2 separate regions of the Homo sapiens genome follow, and region 2 is linked to region 1. Evidence: fine-mapped expression QTL. Tissue or cell type: lung. Region 1 holds a variant in brackets; the other region holds the start of a gene. All regions are shown on one strand. Distances are from middle to middle.

Region 1 (8,189 bases):
TTGCATGAAGCATTAAAGGAGGTGCAAGACTGGCTAAGAGAGAGCCGACAGCACTCGTCAGGGGACCCACGACAATGGTAATGGTAGTTGGGAATGCGTCTCTGGGGTAACACTGCCCAGACTACCAGCTCCTTGTTGTACATGCTGGGTACCTCACCACCCTAAGACTCCACTTCTAGAGCTGTAAAATGTGTCTAACAACATACTTACCTCAATTGAGTTGTTCTGAGAAATGGCAGTTCAGGAAATATGTAGTGTTAGCTCTCAAGGCACATGAAGTAGCACACATGCCTTTCACTTGGTTTGATCTCCCCATTACCTAATATGATAATGATAATGTAGTAGACACTTAAGAAATAGCAGTTGACCATCTTGGTATTAGACTGTTGATATTAGTATATCTGCATTTCTATCAAACTATTACTCTTTCACATTGGATAAGGTATATTGCTTCCAAATCATGCTTCAATTATCAACAAAGCAGGACTGTAAAATTACATTCCTATTATCTGTCTTTGACTATGAACATAGACATTTCAGTTTGGATTCATCTTGAAGCTGGCTGATCGAGCATTAAGATTTGTAAGGCTGTGAAAAGAGACCTTCAATGTGTGAATTGCAGGTGAACTGAGAGCACTAATTCAGGAGTTGATAATAGCTGGTTGTGGAAAAGTCTCCCCGATTGTCTAAATTTTAGCTCATATCAAAAACTGCAAATTTTTACCTAACATACCTAGACATTAAGAGGAGGCATGATTACAAAATGCAAACAAGCAGGACTCAGATTTATTTACTCACATGACCACCTACTATGTCTGAGGTGTCCTTTTCTACTGGGACCAGCACTTAGACCCGTGGCACAGCCCTTGACCTCAATGACCTCAGTCTGGTGTGCAGCACCTTGTTTTATATAGCTTATTGCTCAGACACCTGAAGACTGTGACCCTAAAGTATACTTTTCTAGTTTCATGTCTACTGGTGAGATGGTTGTTGTGCTTACCAGAGTAACAAAGATAATTTCCATTCTCACCTCCCTGGATTGTATTGAATCCAGCACAGGGTACTCTAAAGTATTCACTGATAGAGGCCTCTAATCACAAGTTACTGCAGATGTCCAATATACTTGAATTTTTCAAAGATGGTATGTATCTATCTTTCTGTGTGTGCGTATCTCTGTGTATGTGTGCGTATCTCTGTGTATGTGTGCGTATCTCTGTATATGTGTGCGTATCTCTGTGTATGTGTGCATATCTCTGTGTATGTGTGCACACATGTGAACCACCAAGACTTTGTTCATGGTACCAGAGTGATATAATTAATGAGGCAGGGCAAATCATGTTAAGAAAAATACCACCTGACTGCCTTCTCAATATGTAAGTCTTGGGAAAAATGTTTATATTCATATATAACACAAGTCAAAGTCTTAAGATCATAGTTGTAAGTTAAAGAGCTTGAATTTAAAAAGGCAACAAAAGACATAACAAATTAAATTTGCTTGAAGGCAAATACAGACTTTGCCACTTACTAGATGTGTACCTTCCAGCAAGATTACTGTCTGTATCCCAAGAAATGGAAATATTTGTCTCACATTATTGTTCTAAGGAATCCATGAGCCATTGCAGACAAAATGCTGCTTATAGTGCTGGCGAACAGTAGACATTCCATGAAAGGTGTTTTTATCATTGTTTATTCCCCATACTCCCTCACAAGCACTCAAGACGTTTACAATTTTAAATTAGGTTGTTGGATAGTCAGTACTTTAACACATTGGAATGAACCCTTAGTAGTATAATTTTAAATACTATGGTATGGAACTAAAGGAGATACATAGATAGATGTGTCATATATTTTTAAGACGAATGAAATTCAAGATGGTTGCAGTGGTAGGATAAACAACTCTAACCTAGTGTGTGTATCATATACAGCTCCCTATAAATTACACTATACATGACCACACTAACGTGAACATTAATTTAGCAAACTCTCCACCTTTGCTCATCTTGACTCCTCATCTAGAATGTCTCCTGTGTTTGATTGTTAAATTATACACCTTCTTTATACTCTCTCCTCCACAGCGCCCCTTCTCTGATTCCTGTAAACAAGCAGAGAGCACATCACAACTCTGGTACTGTTTGTCTGTTGTTTCATATTTGTGTTTACAGTTATCTCAATTATATTCCAAATTCCAAAAGGCCACCTTTATATTTGTTCACCCAAAGCACAATCCTGGGCTGAAAATAGGTAATATTTTAAACTGTAATTTTGTGGACAAAAGTTAGTGACTACAAACAACCAACAACAACAACAAAAATAAGCATTTCAAAAAAGTTCTTAGAGGAACAAGGAAGTGAACTTCTGAAAATAAGACTAGTAAATCAGGTAGAATTTTGAAGCTAACATTCTTGGTTTCCTTGACAAATAAATTTCACAATTTGTTTGCTTATCTACCATCTTCTTTATGTGATATAATGAAGAAAAAGAAAAGATTTAAAGCAAACGTGAAAGACTAAAGCCATCAGCATCACAGTAGTGCAAATCTTCACAGGGGAAAATACAGAGACATGTTTCAGTCTCAGAAGAGACTTGGGGACCTTCTGTGAATAAGTGAATTAGGTTCTGGAGTAGAGGCTCTCCTACAAGGACCTCCAGGAACAGACTCAGAGCTCTTTAATAAGTATCCCAGGGAGTCAGGCTTTCTTGGAAAAAACAAATTAGTGTGAGAAGCCAGTACTGTGCAATTTCAGTTTTAAAAATAGCCGGTATTGTCAAGGCTGCTGTGTGCATGAGAGAAATAGAAGGTCCTTGTTAATTTTCGTGTCAGCTTCCACATTAAAACCAAGAAGCTCCACTGAAATCCTTGCCTGGCAAATACTGCAAAGGTTATAAGGTTCGTATCACTTAGAATCACTTTTGGTTCTTCCAATGACAAACTTTTGGGAGGGAAGAGGTTATGTCCCCTTTTATCACATTGGTCTTTCAATAAAGGACAGGCAAGTGATGGCTCTGCCTTTTTCACTTAGGACCAGATCTGTGCCTCCCTGTCTGTTTCAGCTTTTCATTTGCCTAATTGCCCTGGGAGGCTGGCAGGGACGTTCCCTGCAGCCGTGGATCCGCTGACTGCAGAGACCCTACCTGGCACTCTAAGTTGGTGCGTCAGCATTTTAGGTTGAAATGAATGAAAAATCAATCAGGATGACTGCAGTGGTAGCGTGCACAACTCTAACCTAGTTTGTTCATAATTTTCAACTATTCACCGTAGACCCAAGCAGTATGTAAGATGGTAAGTGAATCTGTAACAAATGTGCTGCTTCTGCTTAATCGGGCACTTTTTTTTGGTCCTCTTTTCTATTTGGAACAAGCAAGTCTAACCTTCTTAGGAAGCCACATGTAAAATGAATGACGATGTCAAGTTTCATGCAAATATTATTTGCCCTGGCTTTAGATTCACTTTCTAATTAGACCAAGTGATACTCATATACAGACATAACACATTGCTGTTTTATTAACTTATGTTGCAAATTCAGAGGCTTACATTTTTTTAAGAGTGTGTATGTTTTTGCCACATCTCTTTGTTACTTGCTGTAATTCTCTATCCAAACTACAGTGTTTTAAATTTCTAGATTTACAATTCTGCAAAGATAGAGTTAAACACTATTTGGACTCTGGCTACATGAT[G/T]GTAGCAGGAATTGTTCAAAGCTGCCGTCTTCGGCTCTTAAAGGCAGCTACAGTAACTTTCTGAACAGATTGGGTTAAATATTTTTACAGACCCATTCTATGATGATAAGGCGGTAATAAGTTGTGCAGTGCAACACTCCAAAGGGTTCCAAATCTCACAAGCCTCTTTGTATGTGATGCTCTCGCAGTGAAGAAGATTCTTTGGGCTATAAAGATGAAGAGTCTACTTCTTCTGGTGCTGATTTCAATCTGCTGGGCTGATCATCTTTCAGACAACTATACTCTGGATCATGACAGAGCTATTCACATCCAAGGTAAGGAAACACAGCTTCTCTTATCAAAGCCTAATTAATTTTAAGTTACTTAGAGTTGAGATGCTGGGCTAGTGTTTCTTAATTTTAGTTCTGCTGCATTGACTTTTTCTTTCCCTTTCTGCTAATTGGTGAACGTGTTCCCTGGCTTTTAAACACTATTGCATTACAGTAGAGTTAAGAATTGGGGACAATTAAAGTTGAGTAGCTTAAGAATGTCCAGCTGCAGTGAGTTGGTATAATCGTTCAAGGCTGTTAAGTGCAGTTGCTATCTTCAAGTAAAATGGAGGCCATAAAGTTCATTTAAATGCAAGTCAGAGAGAGAAAATAGGAAGTAAAACTTAGGATATAAGGTCATTCTGTTAGAGTAACTGTTTAATCATTAAGAGAAACAATATAAATAAAATGAAAATTAGACAAGCTATTGTCCAGGAAAAAGTAGTTTACCCTATTATAATCTGCTTCAGTTAAGCTTTAGCTCCTATAGACCAATACATTGCCCCTGCACATTTCTGTTCAGCTCAGCTGATTCCTAAGCCTGAGAGCTGTAGCAGGATTTGAGGCTGCAGTACAATGCAGCTATTTCCTCAGTCCCAGCTTCAGATGAGGGACATCCTGCATTAAGAAAGCTGAGACTTATGCAATAAGAGGAACAGTTCTTTCCTTGCCCTTGGATGCTGAATAATTAAAAAAGGAATTATAGAACTTAACAGTTTAAGCAGATGATGATAATTTTAGATAAACTCCATTGGGGTACCAGAGGCATGATAAGTTTGCTAAGAGACATAAAACTCTAAGTTACATCTTCAAGGTCAAAAGCGTAGCCTCAGTAAACTGCATTCACTGTGAAAAGTATGACTTGTGAAGGTCAAATGATAGTGTAAATCTGTCTAGAAGTATTTTCCTGTACGTATTATGACTACCAAAATAGAATTCTGAATTTGTCTATGTCTAGCTATTTTAGACACATCTCTTTTAGTTTTGTTTGCTTCCAACAGCTTTATTTTTTTCTCTGTTGAACTGAGAAAAGAAATTGTAATCATACATTTTACTCTGCAAGCTGCTGACTCAGCTGTTTCTGTAATATATAGTAGAATCAGAGCTGTTTCCCAAAGACCATATGATATTTACACATAGAGATTTCTAATGAGGAATAATACCCTTTTACCTTCTAGTGACAGAATTCTAGTGACAGAATTCAATTCAGCCAAAATAGTAATACCTAGTCGTTATTAATAATACCAGTTTTATACCCAATGCAATAGAAACTTAAGCCATGGTTTCAAGTTATTAGATGACAGATACCAAAGTTGTATTATGAATTGTGTACAAACCATTTAATGAAAATTGCACTCAGAGTATGAGAATAGTGTTTTAAAAATGTACTAACATTTGAAAAATTACTCCTATAAGTCAGACTCAAGTTATCTCAGGAAGGAAAACTTCTGTTACTCCAGCCTTTCCATTCCCATCTCCTCTGTTGAAACTTAGTGCAAGGGGATTTCTGACCCAGAGTATCAGGATTATCCAGATTATTTGCATACACTGTCCACATTTTTAAAAAGGCTTGATAGTCCACTTCATTTTAATTGTAAATTCATATTCTTAGAAAGTGCAGGCTTGCCTCGAAGAGTTGCTAAAGAGCTTTCAAGTAATAGAACTATATTTGGCTTGTGGAAATTTAATGCTGAAATGTGATTTGGGTCATAGGATTATGATGTTATGCCCGTAAATGAAATACCTGTTCTCATTACTTTTTTCCCAACAATTTTTTTGTGATAGCATTCAGATTGAATTTTCAAATCCCATAGTTCTTCAGAGAAACTGCTTCCAAGTGACCTTCCATAATTCCAGCTGTTTTTTATAATGCAAAAATAAATCAGGTAGCACAAGAATCAACAAAGCAGATTACTTACTTGCTTCGTTACTTACTTGAAATACTGCATATTTTCTTATATTTAAAACTTTTATTTATCAAACATAGCCCAGAAGGAATTTTAGGGAGCTGAAATCCTCACAAATTTTTTGAAGAATTTAGTCAGATGATTAAATTAGCTATCTCAATCTCAGATTCTTGAATGGTACTGATAAGCAGTATGAGCTTCTGTTAGTGATGGAAAATAGTTGAAAATTCACGTTGCTGTAAAAATATCATTACTCTCTCCTATTTTTGATTAGATTTCTATTTTTGTACTCCAAGTTCCCAAGGTCTGAACAACATTGGGAAAATTGTGCAAATCAGCCTCAACTTTTTGTTGGCTGCCTTGATGCAGAAGCTCAACATTTTAATGATACATTTTTGAGTTCCATGTGTATGGGTTAGCTAATTGTTTTTCTGAAGCCTCCTCATAATTTTGTTGTGGGAGGTTTTATAGAGATATAGACACACACAAAAAAGTTTAATCTGGATATTAAAAAAGAAAGAAAGAAAGAAAGCCAGGCATGGTGGCTCATACCTGTAATCCCAGCACTTTGGGAGGCCGAGGCGGGTGGATCACGAGGTCAGGGGTTTGAGACCAGCCTGACCAACATGGTGAAACCCCGTCTCTACTAAAAATACAAAAATTAGCCGGGCGTGGTGGCAGGTGCCTGTAATCCCAGCTACTCAGGAGGCTGAGGCAGGAGAATTGCCTGAACCCGGGAAGCAGAGGTTGCAGTGAGCCGAGATGGTGCCACTGCACTCCAGCCTGGGCAACAGAGCGAGACTCCATCACACACACACACACACACACACACAAAACAAAGGTAAAAAGGCAGATGGCCAGGAAAGAAAATAGCAAGTGTAGACCCCTATGCAAGGTATTTCTAGTGAAAAACATTTCTCTGGTAATGAGAAAGAAATCTCTCCCAGCTTCCCATGGAAAAAGACTTAGCTTTAGATAAAAATTTCACACACACTAATCCATTTCCTTTAATTTTTCATTGAAATAATTTGATCATACAGGAAAGCAAACTTCATTTGTCCACAAAGTCTACTAAAAATATGCAATCAAGATATTAGCTTGTATATAACATACTGTCCTCAATGTAGGCAATAGTTATGTTCTCAAATACCTCTACAGGAAGAGGGGCCACTGTTAATATCCTCTCTATACACTAAACTAATGGATTTTGTTCCTCATGTCACAATGTGGCTACTTTACTTTACTTTTAAATCCTTTGAAACTTGAGACCATTAGGAAGAGTTTTACATGGAGTATCAAATCACACAGAAAGAATAATATTTATAATATTTGTATCAGGTCCAAAAACTTTTGTGTAGCCTTTCAACTACCATAGAATTTTAGAGATGATGAATACACTCTTCAAAATACAACTTTTTAGAAGACATTTACAGATAACAGAGAAATTTTATGACCATTTGCCTATTAACCAATATGCAAAGCAAAATAGATGAACATGTAACTACTTGACCTTATCAAGGTCAGAGTCAGTGCTTCCTGCATTTGGTGTTCAAGCAGAGGTCTTCTGATGACAAGTTTCAGTCTTTCCTGTAATGCCACTAACTAGCTTAGACCTTGGAAAATTTACTTAATCTCTCCAAATCCCAGTTACCCCTCTGTAAAATCAGACCTAATGCCTGCTTATTCAATAGAGCTTTGTGAGAATTAAATGAGATAATATGTGGAAAGTGCTTAGTACAGTGCCTGGTTCCCAAGAGCCAATACTTATCCAGGTGGTTGTTATCATTATGTTTATTGCTTCCTCCCTGTTATGGAAAATTGATTTTTAAATAGAAAACAGACTACAAATACTGGTCAAAAAAATTCATGCTTTTCAAAGTACATTTGTTAACAGAACATATCATCACCTTAATTCTAATAAAGTAAACATTTTATAAGTTCTTTTCTTTGCCTTCTTTAATTTCACAATTTAAAATGTCCCCATTCATATTATTACTTTAATTTTTATTTATTTATTTATTTTTGAGACGGAGTCTTGCTCTCTCGCCCAGGCTGGAGTACAATGGCTCAATCTTGGCTCACTGCAACCTCTGCCTCCCAGGTTCAAGAGATTCTCCTACCTCAGCCTCCTAAGTAGCTGGGATTACAGGTGCCTGCCACAGTGCCCTGCTACTCTTTGTATTTTTAGTAGCAGCGGGGTTTTGCAATGTTGGCCAGGCTGGTAATTCCTGACCTCAGGTGATCAGCCCACATCAGCCTCCCAAAGTGTTAGAATTACAGGTGTGAGCCACCACGCCCA
Region 2 (8,189 bases), 48 kb before region 1:
GGCCTCAGTAGCTTCTGGAACAGCTCTGCTCTTAACATTTGAACAATTTATTGCCTAATTATTTAGCATGCCCTTTTGAAGAGTCTGTCTGCTGGACACTTTCTGAGAGTGAGCACAAAAAGTGGGCTCTTGGAAAGTCATCCCTCCCCCTCATTGCATTAAAAGCAAAATAACCTTTTATCAAATGCTTTGTGACCATTTAGAATATTGAATTTGTATTTTAATCATCGAGTTCAACAGGAATATAGCCAGTGGGAAGGACTTAATTACAAATGGTGTCTTTCTCATGGCTATGCCCACAATCCCAGGAGGTGCTTTAATGAAGTTCTGAGCCCTCAGACAGGAAAGGTCAAATGGCTTTCCTCCCCCCAGTACCTCCAAAGTGCACGAAGCTGAACCTTTATCCTAGCAGATGTTCAATCAGATATAATGTCAGCCTGAGGCAAAAATTCCAGGAAACAAGTGCTCAGAGGGAAGCAATTCTCTGGAATTTAGTGGATAACAGCAGCCTCTTTTGGAGTTTGAAGAGGAGATGAATTTAGATAATCCCCTTTTGAATATAAATGTATATTTTGTTACGAGTGTAATATGCCAGCAGGCATACTATTCTGCTTGGGAATTTATTACATATTAAATATTCATGATATTGCAGATCAATATTTTTTTAAAAGTTGAAAATGTTCCTGCTACACTTATGCTACACACATATTCAAATTTGTATAAGGTGAAACCAGCTGAAATTGCTTTTTGGTAGGTCAAAAAAGGTTGAATATTCCATTTTATCTGGTTCAACCTAATTACTCAAATTGTGTTACAATTAGCAAAAGAATGCAAAGTTACATTTTATAACACCATTTTTTAACCTGTTTTTCATTCTTATAAAATACTGTTGTATTACATTAAACATCATTTCAAAATATGCTGTATATATTATATATAGAATATTTTGATATATAATTTTATATAATATAAATACATCAGCATATTTTGAAATAATATTGTTTAACATCAGATTATTTAATAAGAATGAGAAATAGTTCAAAATATATTATTGAAAAATAAAAAAAAGTTTGGTTTTTCTTGAAACTTAAAAAAATGGCTTATTTGCCTTCTCTAAATTAAAAAAGCAAATAAAACAAACCTCAATATGCTATGTGTTAGGGAAAAAAAAAACTTTAGCAAAACTAAATTTAAAAGAGTTTGATTAAGCAAAGAACAATTCCAACAGTCTCCAGAGGCAGAGCAGGCTCAGAAACTCCAACACAGCCACGTGGTAGAAGGTTTATGGGCAGAAAAAGGAAAGTGAGGTACAGAAACCCCCGGACTGGTTATAGCTCCACCTTTGCCTTATTTGAACAGGGTTTGAACAGTTGGCCACATGTGATTGGCCAAAGCTCAGTGTTGCCACAAGAGCAGGCTACAGTCTGTTTACAATTCCATTCAGGTTATAGTTCACAATGTACAGAGAAACCTTTAGGCCAAACTTAAAATATGTAAGAAGACAGCTTTAGGCTAACCTTGATTTAACAAAGGAAAGATTTGAATTTCCACATGACTTACTAATGTTAATAAATACAGGAAATCTTCAAATACAGAATACTTTTTTGATATGGTTTTCTTTAAGAAGATATTTTGGTCTTCAAAAATTATTTTTACAATTTATATCTTTGTAAAATATTTAGTCATGAAAATAGAGTTGTATTTATTCCTGCATTTACTTGATTTGATTTTTTACCATGGCTTATTATAATGCCTGTGCCCTGATGAAAAACTATAAGGGCTAATCAAAGTAATGTATGCCTCCATAAAGCACAATTTGGCTGAACATTAATTAACTGAACATAAAAATCTTTTTAAAAGACTCTTAAAGCTAATTCCAATGTAAATTTAAATAACTAGAAAACCATGTGAACCCCAAAACGAATGGAAAAATGTATATAACGTCAATTAAATTAAGCCTGAATAACACTTCAAATACACACTATTGATAGGTTAAATATTTGTGATTAAAAAGACTGGGGATCTTTAACAAAGACTAGTAAGGAGGCAATGGGGAAGGGAAGGCTGGAAATAGGGGAGGATCAGGAGGGACAGGATGACTCAGAGGTAAGTACCTGTCATTATTTCTGGAAGTCTATCTCAATAGTTGCGGCTATACCTGAGATTGAAAAAAAATCTAGTGTAGCTCACCATGGTGTGACTAAGTTGCAAAATAGATTGTCTTGGGTGGTTATTAAACAATTTCAGAAGAGAATACATTAAATTATCTTAATGTTGTGCCGGAATAAGTGTATAGAGCAGACCACAAAATAGGGGAACAAGTGCCAGCCATGAGCCAGCTGATTTGATTTACGCTCCAGGCAATCGCCAGAAATTAGGTTGTTAAGCTGAGGGAACAAGATCGGTATTTAAACTGTCTTTATATGATATCATAGCCACACACCACCAGCCTTACCACCTTTATGGTGCTTTAATATAAAAATTGGATATTTGTTTATAAGTCTAATTCGTTTATGTTCTTTAAAATACACACCACCCTGAACGTTTACAAGAAATATGAATAGCATAAAAACCCTTTGCATAGTTGAAAAGCCGAGATGTATCTTATTTTTATTGGCAGTTAATGTAGAGGCCTATATAACAGCTGCCTCAATAGCCACTAGATTAGGGACATAAAACTGCAAAACCTGTTCCCTGTGCGGGAGGGGAAACAGAAAAATAAGAGAAGCGCCCTCACCCAGGTTTTGGAATTCCAAGAAAGGTGTTGAACGCCTGATGAAGAATTCATTTTGAATATAACTGTCTTCATTTAGGGAGGGTGTGTGAGTGTTCCGTTTGTCTTTGAAATGAAACCTTTCCAAGAGGCACGTGTTGATTTACCAAAGACAGAATGGCAAGGGGGAGCCCAGAGGCAAGAACTGGTGAAATCTCTCAGAAGACGCGGGAAGAAGCCTTTTTTCCCCTGCAATCTCTCCCGCCTCTCTCCAGAGTCCAGGAGGAGGCAGTCCCCGTGGCTTAGGCTTTATCTTTAAGACAATAGCGCCGCTCGCCGCCACCCGCGCGACTCGGATCGGGCATCCCGGCGGCCGCACCCCGCGCGCTGGCTCATCTGCACACCGGCCACCTGCATTGTCGGCCAGAGCCCCCGTCCCGGCGGCTTCCCCAGCAGCTTGGCTGCCCCTCAGGTCCTCCCATCCCACCTTGCACCTCCAGGACGCCCTGGACCCGCCCATCCTCCTGCCCCACTAGCTCATCGACTTACGACTCCCTCAGTCCCTACGGCCCACGGAACCCTCTCCCCAACCCGCGCCACAGCCCGAGCGGCGGCGGCGGCCTTAAGAAGCCCGCAGTCCCGCCCGCGCCGCCCCGCCGGGGCCGGAGGTTGGAGCCGGGAGCACGGCCGCGAATCCCCGCACGTCCCCAGCGCTCCGCGACACCGGGCCCTGCTCGCTGCAACTCGGGGACGGCCTGCGTCTCGCCTCCACCCTGGCCGCGGGCCCCTCGAGCTTGTTTGCTTGTCCTCAGTCCCAGGGCCAGCCCCGCTCCCTCCTCCCGGCTGCTCCAACAGCCGTTTGCTTCCTGCGGTGTGTTTCTTTTTTCCCCTTCCTAGACTCCATCAAAGGTGGCTCTGTTATTGAAATATGAAGCCATTTCCTCTCCAAAACCCTTGGTTACTCAAGGCGGGAATCAATGGACCTATATACTCTCCCAGAAGTTATAAATAAACGTCTATTTGTTCAGGAGGCGTTTTCCCGCGTGTCCCAGCATCTTCCCCACTGGTTATTTCAGGGGTGTGTGTGTCTGTGTGTGTGTGTGTGTGTGTGTGTGTGTGTGTGTGTGCGCGCGCGCGCCCTGTGCCCATCTGGTTCTAATCCTGGTTATGGATCCACAACCCAACCCCACCCATCCCGTCTCCCCCTCGCATTCCTCGTTCTATAAATAAATCCAGGTTCTTTGAGCTCTGTCATCCAAGGATACAATAGCAGTTGTTTGTTAAGAGAAATTTAAACTCAACACCAATACTGAGTCCAGTAAACCAGAAAATATGCTTCTGGTGATTTGGGTGGAAGGCCATCTCCAGTTTAAGAAGCTTTATGTGCCACTATCATCATTGTCTGTTATCCTTGATCTCCTTTGGTGAGGGGAAGGCGGGAAAGAGAGGACCTCTCCGACCCTTGGATTTTTCTTTTAAGCAGAGGCTAATAAAACAAAGCGCAAACTGACTGTCCTGAGGAGTCTGCTCACACCGCTGCCCCGCAGATCATTCCACAGACCCCTTGTCCCATCCCTTCTGGACAGACCCAGGACTGATGAGGGTTCGGGTTCGGGAGGTGTGGTGTGGTGGGGGCTTGTGTGGCTGTAGCGGCCGGCTTTCCTAAACCCCAGAGCGGGATACTCGGGATCTGAGCAGAGGGGAAAGTCATCTAAGAGGCTGCTGCTTTACAAGGTCTGGGCACAGAGCTGCCCCTCCCTTCCTCCCTGAAGTTTGCATGAAGTGCACATTAGGCTGTAATTAGGGGATTTGGGAGGAGAACTTTCCTGGTGACGCTTTGCTTTTCTTCTGCTCTTGGTGAGAAAGTGCCTCCTTCTTCCCAGGATCAGGACCTCTGCCATCCAGCGCCACAAAGAGACATTCTGCACACACACTCACACACGCACACACACACACACTCTCACACTCGCCCAGAGACAAACTTAAGGTGAGGAGAAAGAGCGCTAGCTTCACTTGATCTCCAGCTTCCAACTTAAGCAGAACTTGAGAGCATCCGAACTCCTGGATTTCAGGACAAGGTAAAACTTGCAAATTGTTTCCCCCTCTTTTGGTTATACCTTTGTGCCTTTAAGATTTCAGAGGGCAATACACATGCAATGTATATATACATTAAACAAATTTTATTCTTTTCTTTTGAGTTTAGTTTTCATTTGAATTTAATATGACACCTCAACTTTTAAAAAAGTTTCATATTGTCGGATAAAATATTTCACTACAATAAACAGGCTCAGTCTAAAAATGGAGAAAGAATTAACTCTAGTATCTTAGCTTCTGCTAGTGCTCCTGTAAATCTGGTAGGGTCATGGTTTCCAAGTGGTGACTTTTCTATCTGTATCTCAACAACCATTTTTATAGCACCTGAGATGAAACAAGGATAGTATAGGCTGAAGGGAAAGGTGAGGAATGGGAATGTCCAGCCAGGCTTATGAATTTTGTTTCAGAGAATATATAGGGTTATGTGAAAAAGAAAGTTACTTTAGGCATAGGTAATACCTGTTAGATTAATAATCTTAGAAATGTTGCCATTTTTGGCCCAGGCTTCCTTCTCCAGCTAATTATGAACTTAAGATCATAGAATGATGATGCATTTCATATATACAATGATGTTGATGGATAATTTGAATGCACTGAAGAGAATTTATAGTCATAGTTAAGATTACTGTTAAAAGTTGCTTAAAGAAATTATTTGTATGTTGAGACTGTTCCCCACCAAAAACAAACCTAAACTTGTTTGGGCTTCGATTAAGTAGTTTTCTTCCATTGAATGTGACTGTTGTGTTCAAAATAAGATGGCTTATTAATTTGAGAATAAGTTGCTTTATTTTCATTTATCACTGGAAAAATACACACAGTGGCCAGTACATTTGGGAATTTTTAGGGTGGAAAGTGTTCCTGTACATGTTCCAGTGTGATGTCATAAAATCAAACATACTGGCTGGCTTCTTGGAAGCTAATAGTTCTTAAGAAATTAAGGCTGTGGATTGATTTCTAAATGAATGTAATATTTATTCATTACAATTGTAGTTTCTGGTAACTATTTCTATGTGATTATTTCTGTGTACTAAATTTGCAGAGATTTTATACACATTTCAGTCATTTCAGTATTTTAATGGAATGGGAATATTGTTCTATCAAAAGTATATCATAGTAGTTATCTTTGGAGAATTTTTAATGTGATATGATTCATAATTCTTATATCAGTTAACAAATTCCATTTACCTACAAAAATGAAAGTTTCTCTTCCATTCAGTAAAATATAATGTATACCAAAGGACTCTTCAGATATTAGCTTTAGTCTTTAGTCACTTTTATACCACCCATTTTAAAAAATTTAATTGTTTCAGCTAAGAAATGAATTTATACTTTTGTTGATGACCTCTTCCACTAAATTGGAAACAGCTTAAAAACAGAACTAGATAAGAAGTAATTTTACTTAAGGCTAATTAAATGAACAAGAGATAACCAACAACCTCAACAGACCACTGCTCTACAGGAGGAATGTACCCAGAGGCCAGTATTCTCGACAGGAATGCCTTATGGGCCTGGGCTTTCTATGAGAAACAAGAAGGTGGGGAAACATTATGTACTTATTTATAAAATGAGCCATTTATTTTCAGCAAGGCCCTGTCTCTCAGAGGAATGACTGACACTGTAATTTAGAAGTACTGAAGAGACTTTCACAGAGAAGAATCAATTCATTATATCCCTAGTGGTTTCACTTCCTTTTCCTTCCTTTGGGAGCAAGTAACACATCCAGGATAAATACATTCAGAGTACACAGAAAGATACTTTATGAGTAAACGGTCTACTAAACAATCCTGCCTTTTAGCATCTTAGGTGTGGAATATTGGTATTTTCTGAACAGTTGAAGAAGTCCTTTGAATCTTAAGATAGCAATGCACTTCATCTTTGTAAAGATGAACAAAAGTTATATTCAGAAAATGACTCCCTTCCTTAGAAAATACTAGTTTTCTTTTTCATTTCTTTTTGCCCCATGCACATTTTATTTTTCAGATTGCATTTTTAAGATCATGATCTCTCACCAGTTAAAATTCTGACGAAATACCAGGCAAATTTGAAAATAATTTTGATAGTGCTTCAAATTAATTTTCTGACATCCTGCAGCCATGAGTAGTAACCATAGTACTTAGTCTATGTCATTTAAGTGTACTTAGCCTGTCATTTAAAGGTAGCAAAATGCTGTTGGAAGAAGTAGGAAAGGATGGAAACCTGAATATACTTAGGATTTTAATCAATAGTGTTTAAGGAGGATTAGAGGAAACAGCTGGTTAAACAATTATTAGGAGTAGAGAGGACGAGGTGGTATAAATTAATAATGCATCTCTTTATTTACACTGAATGGGAGGGTCTGTGGTGGTTAACTGTGTGAAGCATGGTCCCTGTGTGCCACCTAGTGGATAAGTCAAAGAAGGCTTTCTCACCGGCTTCTTAAAATACTCTGACTCCCTCGGTTGACGTTTGTTGAACATTAACTACACGCCAGACATTGGGATAGGTGCTCAGGGTAGAAACTAAAGCAAGTGATGTTTATATAAGTTAAAAATTAAGGTACAACTAAACAGTTTATGAAATCCCTACTGGTTGTATTTAAGATCACTTTACTCTTTGTTGGATACTTTACCATTAACTTTCCGCCTCCACAAGGATATAGCTTAATAACTGCAACTCACTTCTAATATAGGATTTGTTTTAGACAGACAGGTCATGGAATTGTTCAAGGACTGGTGGAAAGAGTTTGACCATCTTAAATCACTGTTCCTGAAATAGAAATAAATTTCTCTAAGGTTTAATGTTACTGAATTTAGTTGGGAAAATAACTACTAGCTTAAAAGGTTACCACACAGCTGCACATTTTGTTTCATATTCTTTGATTTTTTTATTAAATTGGAAAGGATAGTAGTACAAGTTGTTTTTGAGTAATGAGGTCTATTTTATAAAATATTGCTCTCAAACACTAATAATTAGCATGTAAAACAACTTCATCTATACTTGTTGTTCACTTGGAGTTTTGAAGCAGGAACCTGGCTTCCATGAAGTTGATCTAATAGAAAAAAAATTCTAGACAAAAACAATTACATGGAAAACCACCACTTGAAGGAAGCATTAAGATACCATAGAAGATTAGTCCATTTGAGTATTGCACTGAGAGCTTTAAAAACCTTTTCTTTAAAAGATATACGAATTATCACTCCAACTGGCTCTTTGCAAGTTATGTGACAATTGCAACAGTGATCAGGACAATCAGCATTAATCAATACAAGTTGTGAAATTCATATAGGAAGGTAAAATGCCTCAGTAGAAAAAAATGATGAATTTGTTACTTGGGGAGCTTTGTAGGTGTAATCCAAAAATAGAGTTAGGCGTGCTGTTGTGGAATGGAAGTTTCCTCTTTGGA

What was found. PIP is the estimated chance that this variant, and not a neighbour inherited with it, causes the effect.
Region 2: HAPLN1 starts here. The variant in region 1 is fine-mapped to the expression of HAPLN1 in lung (TOPMed, PIP 0.92).

Annotation. Positions count from the first base shown.
Region 1 is chr5:83,669,224-83,677,412 of GRCh38, reverse strand. It overlaps HAPLN1 (hyaluronan and proteoglycan link protein 1), which reads left to right. Exons shown (of 5, transcript NM_001884.4): 2 at 3,864-3,989. The coding sequence starts at 3,890. Among named protein-coding and RNA genes, the nearest start is that of HAPLN1, 48 kb to the left of the region's middle. The variant G/T (reference allele first, on the strand shown) is at 3,676.
Region 2 is chr5:83,717,391-83,725,579 of GRCh38, reverse strand. HAPLN1 (hyaluronan and proteoglycan link protein 1) reads left to right here and starts at 4,725. Exons shown (of 5, transcript NM_001884.4): 1 at 4,725-4,791. RefSeq lists a silencer at 3,081-3,140.